Homo sapiens: one gene and its partners. The protein of the gene in region 1 interacts with the protein of each later gene in a pairwise test. Each region holds a gene or a part of one and is shown on either strand. Other genes may lie near its edges. The genes, in order: ARMC12, SENP2 and GAD2.

Region 1 (3,653 bases):
CAATATTACATTTATTGAGTGAATAAAGGGATCTTCGGTTCTAGGATGCAAGATGCGGGCAGGACGCAGTGGCTCACGCCTTTAATCCCAGCACTTTGGGAGGCCAAGGTGGGCAGATCACCTGAGCTTGGGAGTTCAGGATCAGCCTGACCAACATGGAGAAACCCCATCTCCACTACAAAAACAAAAAATCAGCGGAACGTGGTGGCACATGCCTGTAATCCCAGCTACTCGGGAGGCTGAGGCAGGAGAATCACTTGAACCCGGGAGGCGGAGGTTGCGGTGAGCTGAGATCGCGCCATTGCACTCCAGCCTTGGCAACAAGAGCGAAACTCCGTCTCAAAAAAAAAAAAAAAAAGTAAGATGCTTGGACCTAGAGGCATTACCAAAGACAGGTAACCTCACGAGCTGCACCTTTATGAGCCATGTAAGAAGTAAGCAAGAGTCCTGGAGTGGAAGTGAGCATTCCCATCAGTACCTGCCCTTCCCTTCCCCCACCCCTCAAAAGCCGTGGCGACCCGCAGGACAGGTTGGAGTCAGCAAGTCTGGGACAGGGTTTCAGAACGAGGGAACAGCAGCAAGGGGGCATGTGAGAGCATAAAGCATGCATTGTACGTGGCTGGGGTTAGGGCAAGGAGGTGCAGCCCATGGCCAATCACGCACTTTATGCTGAGAGCCTTGAGGCAGACCCAAAGGGCCTGATGGCCTAAGAGCCCTCTGGAGAGAGTGGGCTGATTCAGGGAATGGGGTGAGCTCCATTTTGGATATGTTGGGTTAGAGAACTTGGAGGGCATCTAAGTGGATATGCCTAGTAGCAGCTGCCCATGGGGAAGGCAGGGGAGCCCACAGGCTGCAGAGATCCAGAAGGGCACAGCTAGATGGAAATTGAGATCAAGGAGTAACTACTTTCACCTGAAAAGAGACCAGGGGTCAGGCCCTCAGCATAAAGACACTGGGGAAAAAAAGGAAGAGTGGGACTCAGGCCGCCTGCATCAGAATTTCCTGGGGGATTTGTGAAAAACAAAGTTCTCCTGTTGAACTGAACTCCCTGGGCTTTTTTTTTTTTTTTTTTTTTTTTGAGACAGAGTCTCGTTCTGTGGCCCAGGCTGGAGTGCAGTGGCGTGATCTTGGCTCACTGCAAGCCTCTGCCTCCCGGGTTCAAGTGATTCTCCTGCCTCAGCCTCCCGGATAGCTGGGATTACAGGTGCCCGCCACCACGTCCGGCTAATTTTTGTATTTTTAGTAGAGACGGGGTTTCTCCATGTTGGCTAGGCTGGTCTCGAACTGACCTCAGGTGATCTGCCCACCTCAGCCTCCCAAAGTGCTGGGATTACAGGCTTGAACCACTGCGCCCAGCCAAAATCTTTGCTTTTAACAAGCTCTCCAGGTGATTATAATATGCTTGAGAATCACAGCCTGACCAGGTGTGGTGACTGACACCTGCAATCCCAGCACTTTGGGAGGCTGAGGCAGGTGGATCACTTGAGCTCAGGAGTTCGAGACCAGCCTGAACAACATGGCAAAACCCCACCTCTAAAAAAATACAAAAATTAGCCGGGCATATTGGTGCATGCCTGTAATCCTAGCTACTAGGGAGGTTGAGGTGGGAGGATCACTTGAGTCCTGGAGGTGGAGGTTGCAGTAAGCCAAGATCGTACCACTGCACTTGAGAAGGCTGAGGGATGAGGCAGCAAGCAGAGATCTCTCTAGGTATTTTTTTCTGTTTGTTTCTCAATCTATTTTTATTCTTTTGTGTGTTTGCTTTTATTGATATATCATAGTTGTGCATATTTTGAGGATACATGTAAAGAGAATTTTTTCCCCAAAAAAGTTTGATGCCAAAAATTAAAATGTGGACCACGCATGGTGGCTCATGTCTGTAATCCCAGCAGTTTGGGAGGCCGAGGCAGGCAGATCACTTGAGGCCAGGAGTTTGAGACCAGCCTGGCCAACATGGTGAAACCCTGTCTTTACTAAAATACAAAAAAATTAGCCAGGCATGGTGGTGCGCGCACGCCTGTGATTCCAGCTACTCTGGAAGCTGAGGCACAAGAATTGCTTGAACCTGGGAGGCAGAGGTTGTAGTGAGCCGAGATCGTGCCACTGCACTCCAGCCTGGGCAACAGAGCAAGACTCTGTCTCAAAAAAAAAAAAAATTAAAATGTGAAATTATCAAACGTTAGGTTATGACACAATAGAACACTCGTGCAGGGCTGGTGGGGTGAAAATGGATACCTCCCTCCTGGAAAAGTTGGGCATACCCTTTGACCAAACCATTCCACTCCTGCATACACACCCTAGAATCCTCTCTCAGGCACACAAGGGAGACGAACACAGGAATGTTCACAGCACAATGTGAGTGTGACAAGCACCTGGAAACAATGCAAATGCCTAACAACGGGCAAGTGGCAGAGTATTCACGAAAGAGACCACCACAGAGCGGTGAAAGAGACCCAGGGGGGAGAATTGCTTGAGCCCAGGAGTTCAAGGCCAGCCTGAGAAACATAGTACTCCCGTACTCACTGAGCACACCCGTACTCCCAGCTACTAGGGGAGCTGAGGTGGGAGGACTGCTTGAGCCTGAGAAGTCAAGGCTGCAGTGAGCCAAGATCACGCCACTGCACTCCAGCCTGGGCGACAGAACGAGACCCTGTCTCAAAAAAAAAAAAAAAAAAAACCAGAAGGAAGCAGAGCTGCCCAATAAGGATGAATCTCTCCACGTAGCAGGGAGAAAAGGCCAACCACAGAATAGAAACCATCTACTTCCATGTACATGAAGCTTAAAAACATACCAGACTATATTTTACCTCTTTATTATCTGCTATGCCCTGCTAGAATATGCAAGGATACATACATATATGGTAAAACTACAAAGAAAATTTGGAACTGCTAAACAAAATGCAGGGTAATGACTGCCTCTGGTGGGGGAGGCAGCCAAGATGTGGGAGGGGGCTGTGCTCTATTTCTTGGCCTGGGCATGTTCTGTTTTATTGTTATTCCTTCTAACTTACACATATACAATATTTGCAAGTTTTACATATTTTATTTGTTTTTAATTTGGGAGAGATAGACTATTTGCCAGGAAGAGATGTGGAGGTCAAGGGAGAGGCTTTTTTGGTTTTGCTTTGTAAGATGGGAGGGGTTGGAGCCTACTGCATGCTGATGGGGGAGCGGAGCGTAAGCAATCAGAGAGGCCCTTAAGGAAGGGGTGGGAGGCAGGATTGAGACTATCACTGGCCACAGACCAGGAGAAAGCCATTTTTTTCATGGCAGCAGCAGGAAAGCAGGGAGGATGGGTGTGGATACTGTAAGTTTGGGGGTATGATAGCAGGGAAAGGGGGAAGTGACATGTGGTGTTTTACATTTTGTCTATGGAGTAATGGAGAAGTTATCCGTGGCCATGACACCAACCTCTGATTAACACAGGCCCAGGGGATAGAGTATAAAAAATACATCTGATCTTTGTCCCTAGTTCCAGGAACAGAGCTCCTGAAACCTTTGGAATTTCCTGAGTGACAGCAGTGTCCTTTGTTACTGCAAACCAACCCTTTTTGGTCACAACAGAGCTTATGCTAATGAAGTGACTCCAGGCAGGGTCCTTGGATAGCTTCTGGTTGCCAGAAAGACCAAAGCATGATTAGAAGGTTGGGATT
Region 2 (3,653 bases), on another chromosome or scaffold:
GCTCACTGCAATCTCCGCTTCCTGGGTTCAAGCGATTATCCTGCCTCAGCCTCCTGAGTAGCTGGGATTACAGGCGTCCACCGCCACGCCCAGCTAATTTTTTGTATTTTTGGTAGAGATGGGGCTTCACCATGTTGGCCAGGCCGGTCTCGAACACCTGATCTCAGGTAGTCCACCAGCCTCAGCCTCCCAGAGTGCTGGGATTACAGGCGTGAGCCACCGCACCCGGCCTACTATCTAGCTTTTGAATGCAGAAATAACAGATTGTTTGCGAATAATCAGTTGTGAACTTTAAAAAAAAATTCTTTTGGTTTAGTCAGAATGTCAGTATTTTCTCCATTTTGACCAGCCATATGTTGGAAACAGCAGTATGTTTAACGAACTCTTAACTTTGTCATGTTGGCGAAACCCTCAAACTATTTTTGCTTTTTAAAGTTGCTGCTTTGGCTGGGCACAGTGGCTCACACCTGTAATCCCAGCACTTTGGGAGGCCGAGGTGGACGGATCACGAGGTCAGGAGATCAAGATCATCCTGGCTAACACGGTGAAACCCCATCTCTACTAAAAAATACAAAAAATTAGCTGGGCATGGTGGCTGGCACCTGTAGTCCCACCTACTCGGGAGGCTGAGGCAGGAGAATGGCGTGAACCCGGGAGGCGGAGCTTGCAGTGAGCAGAGATTGTGCCACTGCACTCCAGCCTGAGCTACAGATCGAGACTCCGTCTCAAAATAAATAAATAAATAATTAAAGTTCCTGCTTCTGGCTGGGTGTGGTGGCTCACACCTGTAATCCCAGCGCTTTGGGAGGCCGAGGCAGGTGGGTCACTGGAGGTCAGGACTTCGAGACCAGCCTGACCAACATGGCGAAACCCCATGTCTACTAAAAATACAAAAATTAACCAGGTGTAGTGGCGTGTGCCAGTAATCCCAGCTACTTGGGAGGCTGAGGCAGGAGAACCACTTGAACCTGAGAGGTAGAGATTTCAGTGAGGCCATGATCACACCACTGCACTCCAGCCTGGGCGACAGTGCGAGACTCCGTCTCAAAAAACAAAAAGTTCTTGCTTTTAATGTATTGTTTCAGGATCCATTTAAATACATAGCTTAAAAAGTTTTTTATCTTTTAATCTGAGTTTTATCACACTGAGATTTTTCAGTTAGTGCATCACTGGGGATTCAGAACCTCTGATTTTACAAACAGAGAAACTGGAGGTTAGGTGACCTGGCTGAAATATTATTAGAATCATGATTAGACTCCTTTTATCCTAGTCCCACATAGTTGCTTCCTTTCTGTTGTAATTTGATATAATAGTGTAATCAATCACCCCTATTTGGAGAAGCTTGCTGGACAGAGATAATGCATATTAATGGTAGACTTTGCTTTTGTATCTGATCTCCCTCACTTTTTGTGTTTCTAAGTTCTCAAAGAAGTCAGATGGACACATTAAAGACCAAAGGCTGGGGGGAAGAGCAAAATCACGGAGTCAAAACAACTCAGTTTGTTCCAAAACAATGTGAGTTCCCAGATTTAGCCTTGTCTTAATATATTGACCTTAGTTCATGCTACAGTGTTCATATGAGGTAGAAAATTGACATTCAAGTGTAGATGGTGTACCAAAATACTGTCAAATCTCACAGCATTGGGCCGGGCGCGGTGGCTTACGCCTGCAATCCCAGCACTTTGGGAGGCCAAGGCAGATGGATCACCTGAGGTCAGGAGTTCAAGACCAGCCTGGCGAACATGGTAAAACCCCATCTCTACTAAAAATACAAAAATTAGCCAGGCATGGTGGCACTTGCCTGTAATCCCAGCTACTCAGGAGGCTGAGGAAGTAGAATTGCCTGAACCTGGGAGGTGGAGGTTGCAGTGAGCCAAGATCACGCCACTGCACTCCAGCCTGGGTGACAGTGAGACTCTGTCTCAAAAAAAAAAAAAAAACCTCACAGCATTGACTGGGGCTTATCTAGGAATTTAGTAGAAAAGCTGTTTCAGGGTGAAGTAGATTCATAACATGGCTCTGGATTATTATTCCTAAGCTGCTAGATAGTAGCAACTATTTTGTGAGCTGAAATTTTATTATATTCCTTATATAACAATTTCCTTATACTTCTCCACTTACTGTCCACTAAATGACAGCTTACCAGATAAGCAGATATCACTCAGTTTATAGTAAAGATTATATTTAAACAGCAAAGATATGTATGCATTTTTTTAGGCAACTTAGTATATAGGGAGGCTAGTGTCTTTGGAATTCACTGTAGCATTTCAATGTAGAGGAATGTCTTGATGTTGTGGAAACTCTGTAAGCTGAAATTCTAACTATATTATTCATCGATGAAGGAAACATTTAATCTTTTCTTTACCATCCTCACAGATAGACTTGTTGAAACAAGGGGACCTCTATGTTCATTGAGAAGTGAAAAGAGGTACGTACATTCAGTTCATTCTACACTTTCTTTTAATATATATTTTCTTACTTTATAAGCTGTATTTATGAGTAAGCAGTTCTGAGGAATTGTGAACTCTCTTGAGTTCTGGTAGTTGGTCAGCATATAGGGTAGATAGGTAGCTAGCTGTTGTGTCAGATGCCCACCCTAGCCTGGTGGGTTGAGGGGGGTGCCCCTTATCTCCCAGGCGTCAGGGGTTGGGAGAAACACATGCTTCTTAGATGGGAGTTTGGTTGGAGTGGGGATGTCTAGTGTCAGTGTCTTTAGGATAGGAACAGTAAAGGCAGCTCTGCATGCTTTAGGATTTTGGGATGATGGTTTATAGCAGAGTTTGTAAACTATGGCCCATGGGCCAAATCTGGTCTACTTGCCTATTTTTGTATAGTAAATTTCTATTGGAACATGCGAATTCATTTACATACTGTCTGGCTGCTTTTAAATTACAGTGGCAGAGTTGCCACGATGTGCCCAAGACCATAAAACCTGCAAAGCCTAAAATACTGTCTGTTCCTTTTCAGAAAAGTTCGTTGACTCCTGGTTTAGAGTATTATGTAAACTCAACACAATTTTTATGTACAAATTACGAAATCTTATTTCTAAAACTAGGATGTACTAGGTTTGAATCATCTAGCAGAAGTCTATCATCTCTCAATTTTTTTCCTTAGGTGTTCAAAGGGGAAAATTACTGATACAGAGACGATGGTCGGAATCAGATTTGAAAATGAAAGTGTAAGTAAAAATCCTAGTTACATTTGATACCTGTTTACTTATGTAACTTATGTTTTGGTGCCCATGAAAAGCAAGAAAAAGTATATATATATAACTTTGATTGTTAATTCTGTTGTTTTTCTTTAAAAAAGCAGCAAGCCAGCCAGTCACAGTGGCTCATGCCTGTAATCCCAGAACTTTAGGAGGCCAAGGCAGAAGGATCACTTGAGCCCAGGAGTTTGAGACCAGCCTGGGCAACATAGTGAGACTGTCTCCACAAAAAAATTTAAAAGTTAGCCAGGCATGGTGGCATGTCTGTAGTCCCAGCTACTTGGGAAGCTAAGGTGGGAGGATTGCTTGAGCCCAGGAGGTCAAGGCTGCAGTGAGCTGTGATCACACCATAGCACTCCAGCCTAGGTGACAGAATGAGACTCTGTCTCAAAAAAAAAAAAAAAAAAAAAGGCAGGAAGCATTGAAAATACACAACTTTTTTCTT
Region 3 (3,653 bases), on another chromosome or scaffold:
ATGCGTGATCCAAACAAAAGCCCGAATACCAGTGCTGTGCTGGTATTTTCTTTGGCATAAAACTGATCAGAAACAGGACTCACCACCCTATTAATCATTGAGTGGGAGGGATGTTTTCACATTGTGTCAAATGGCCAACCTTTCAGATTTGAATTCAGATTTTCACTTATTTTTAAGGAAATGTGCACAACACACAAGCAGGCATGATACAGACTAGCTTAGCAATTCAGCCATGTTATATAAGGATGTGTGTTCCTCCCAGCCACTGTATATGTGAGATAAAGAAAAAGGGGGGGAGGGGCAAATCAGATATCCTTAGGGGGAAATTTTTTTAAATGTACTTTTGTGGTCTCTTGGCTTTTCACAGGAGTCTTTATATTCCATCCATATTACAGCTTCATTTATAACATTTATTTGGGTGCATTCCGAGCTTTCATGTTATCTACACAAAGTCAGCCATTCATCTGCCCAGGTCTTGATTACCCTCGCTTTTTACGTTGTCTCTAATCATCCTGATACACGATGGCTGACACTTCATTACGGCAATAAAAATAAGTATGAATGAATTTCCAGGGGTGGGGAGGACTTTGTGGATCGAAGTTGATGTGTAGCCTTTAAAAGATTTGCTAGCAAATAAAAAATGTGAAATATGACATGAACATTCATCACCATAGAAACGTCATCTTTTTAGATTGCAAACATTTTGCTGATGAATTAGCAGTATTACGCTAATCAATAACAAACATTCTTAAAATGTTTGCTGTGAGAAGTTTAGTTCTTTTTTTCTTTTTGTTCACATTATTTGTACCAACAGAGAAGAAAGGTAGGCATACAAAAAGCCTTGGGACATAGATTTCTATCAAAGTCAGGCTATGGAATAGGAGTTTTGAAGGTGTATTAGACATCATCCTCAATTAACGTTCATGAAGAACCCACGTGATGTTTATACCAGGCATTAAAAATTTTCCTACCCCTCCTCAGCTTTTCCTGCATTCATAGTGCAATCCTGGGTGATGCTTTTAATTCATTTTTTGACCCATTCCCCATACCTTATATTTAGATACGTTAATAGTAAATTGCCACCTATTGTTTGTATTGCTACCAAACCAAAAAGAACCTATGGAAATGTTTTGTGTCTTCATCCTTGAAAGCTAGTGGTGCCTGAAATGCAGTCTACAGAGTTAAGATAATGGGAACTGCAAGTCAATGAAAGTAATAGTTCTGTCTATCAACGTTGCATTTAGTGCCAGGAAAAGATGGGCTAATTCAATACTTACATTTTGCCATAATGCTTATGAAACTGTTAGGTGTCACTGTAATGCATTTTATTTAAAGTTCAGATAAAAATGTGATGGATTAAGTTGGATTTCTAAGCAAGGCATATCAATTCAATCTCTCAATAGTTTTCATAACATATTTAGTCTGCTGGCCTTTTCCTTCAAATAGCATTTCAAAAAATTAACAGCAGTCATTTTCTCTATTCAGCTGGCAACTTTATAGATTTCTGTGCTATAACTGTCATACTTGTCATCTAATGCTATTTAGGGTATGTCAAATTAGTTACCATCCTTGCTACTACCAGACATTTTAATACTCCTCAAGAGATTATTTTATAAAATGCATATTATCATCTTGTTTCTACTGAGAGACCTTAACCTGATTTCCACTTGGGCTCCAAGCTTAGAGAGGAGTGAAGGGCAGTGGGAAAATGAAGTCTTCATGGATTGTTAAAATTACCTCTGTAAAAAGAAATGTTGGAACACGGAAAACTGAGCAGAGAATGATAGAATTCCAGAATAATTTGCATTTGCAGAGATCATTAGATTTGGTGCTAGTGGTGGTGGTGCTGGCTGGGGAAGAGTAGGACTTAAATGTGGTCCTGAATCTTTTACCAAACCATCAGACAAAGGGAATTAAGCGTCAGTAGATGAGGCAGCCCTAGTGTGAGTGTTGCCAGGACATAAAGAGCAGTTTGGACCGACTTTTGGCCTCTTCCCAACTGATCATGAGCACAGGGTCAGAGTTGCCTGAGGCTGGTTGTTCGCAGAGTCTGCGCATCCTTCCGGGCTCATTTGCTAGTCTGCAGGGAGCATCCCTGAGTCTGAGCAGCCAGTTCTCACATCTCAAGCTCGCCACCTTCCTGGCTGCATAGGCTGTGTGGCCACCCAATGGCTGACGCAGTGCGCTCTGCTCCCATCACAGGGCCTGGCAGGGTGGCGACAGCAGCAGGAGGCCAAGGGCTGCAGGGACACCTGACCTATGGGGGCAGGTCTCACAATTCCTTGGAGAGAGCCCTGCCTTGATTTGCTGGGCAGCCCTAGGAAGCAGCCTGTAGGGGCCACAGGATGGGAGCAAATGTCACTAGGGGAATATTTCTGCCAGAAATCGAGAGAGCCTGTTGATCTGACCTGTCAAACTATCTCCCTCCCTATTTTCACATCATCATCAGGGAATGAAATTTTTGAGGCAGGAGAGATTCAGGTGAAATGGCAGAGCAAGGTCAAAATATATATAGGGAGGAAGGGAAACCTAGCAATGAAAGCGTCAAACCTGTTTTCACTGTTTACGGAAAGTTATCATCAGGGTGAATTGGCCTTCTGATATCCAGAGGCACAACACACCCCTCACAATCTCTCTCCATCTTATGCACAGGTTTTCATTCCCAAGTTTCCCTAGAGTTAAATACTGTCTAATCATAGACACCACATTCATCCAGAAAATGAATATGAATTATAATCCTTATTAATTTCCTCACTTGAAAAAAAAAGGGTTAGGGAAAGAGAAATGAAGGAGCATCGGGAGGGAGGAAATGGCTGTGATTTCAGCTGCGAGCATAATGAAATGGGGAGTCAATGAGGCAGAGAGGAGTGAAGGGTTGCTCCAGACCTCAGTGGCCACAGCAGCAAAAAAGCCTTCTCACCCTTCGTGGATGGGTAAACTGAGGGGGTCAGCATCAGAGATAGAGGGGTACCACACGAGGCCACAAGGACATAAAACAATGCTGGAGAATGTACAATAGATACACAAGTCCTGATCCCGCTAAAATGGGCTCCCTCCCAGCTTATATCTTTACCCAGTGTCTGTCTGGCCACATGCCTGAGGCTGATAAGAGAGCACTCCAGTGCAGGAGATAAGCTAGCCATTGACTTTTGTCCCTGCTCTTCCCCATTGCCTTCCTTTATCTTGTTTTGCCTGTGCTGGAGATGAGAGACAATCACATCCCAGGCTTCAGACAGATGTCCAGGATGTGGAAGATACCTTTTTATCAGATGCTATTTCCACAATGGCCCATCTTCTAAAATTTTTGCTGCTGTGCAAATCACGGACCTATCGATGACAGGCTTTTGTGGAGCAAGAGGAGAAAACTGAATGCTAATGACATATTTATAATCACATTTTAAATAATAGCCTCAGGAGAGTGTGGATGTCAATCCATTTAGAGAGTTTTAGAGGAATCTAGAAGTTAATTAGATAAGCCTTGCGATGGACTAATCAGTCGATTGAGTATATCTTTCTGTATCTTGTTGATAAAACAGTGATGTTGACTGTATGTGGCCTTATTTTAAATCACAACTATGGAGGAGCGCTGTTGTTTATAATTAACAAAGAAGAATTGACAAGAATTAGCTTTGTCCATGCCATCTTTAGACAAT

Evidence for each region.
Region 2: the proteins of ARMC12 (region 1) and SENP2 interact in binary tests that used the Homo sapiens proteins (3 or more experiments, as listed by UniProt).
Region 3: the proteins of ARMC12 (region 1) and GAD2 interact in binary tests that used the Homo sapiens proteins (3 or more experiments, as listed by UniProt).

The regions. Positions count from the first base shown.
Region 1 is NC_000006.12:35,739,922-35,743,574, reverse strand, and holds part of ARMC12 (armadillo repeat-containing protein 12), read right to left. Parts: intron 1-3,653. UniProt on the Homo sapiens protein: Essential for male fertility and sperm mitochondrial sheath formation. Required for proper mitochondrial elongation and coiling along the flagellum during the formation of the mitochondrial sheath.
Region 2 is NC_000003.12:185,610,231-185,613,883, forward strand, and holds part of SENP2 (sentrin-specific protease 2), read left to right. Parts: intron 1-1,420; coding exon 1,421-1,515; intron 1,516-2,376; coding exon 2,377-2,428; intron 2,429-3,114; coding exon 3,115-3,178; intron 3,179-3,653. UniProt on the Homo sapiens protein: Protease that catalyzes two essential functions in the SUMO pathway.
Region 3 is NC_000010.11:26,219,641-26,223,293, forward strand, and holds part of GAD2 (glutamate decarboxylase 2), read left to right. Parts: intron 1-3,653. UniProt on the Homo sapiens protein: Catalyzes the production of GABA.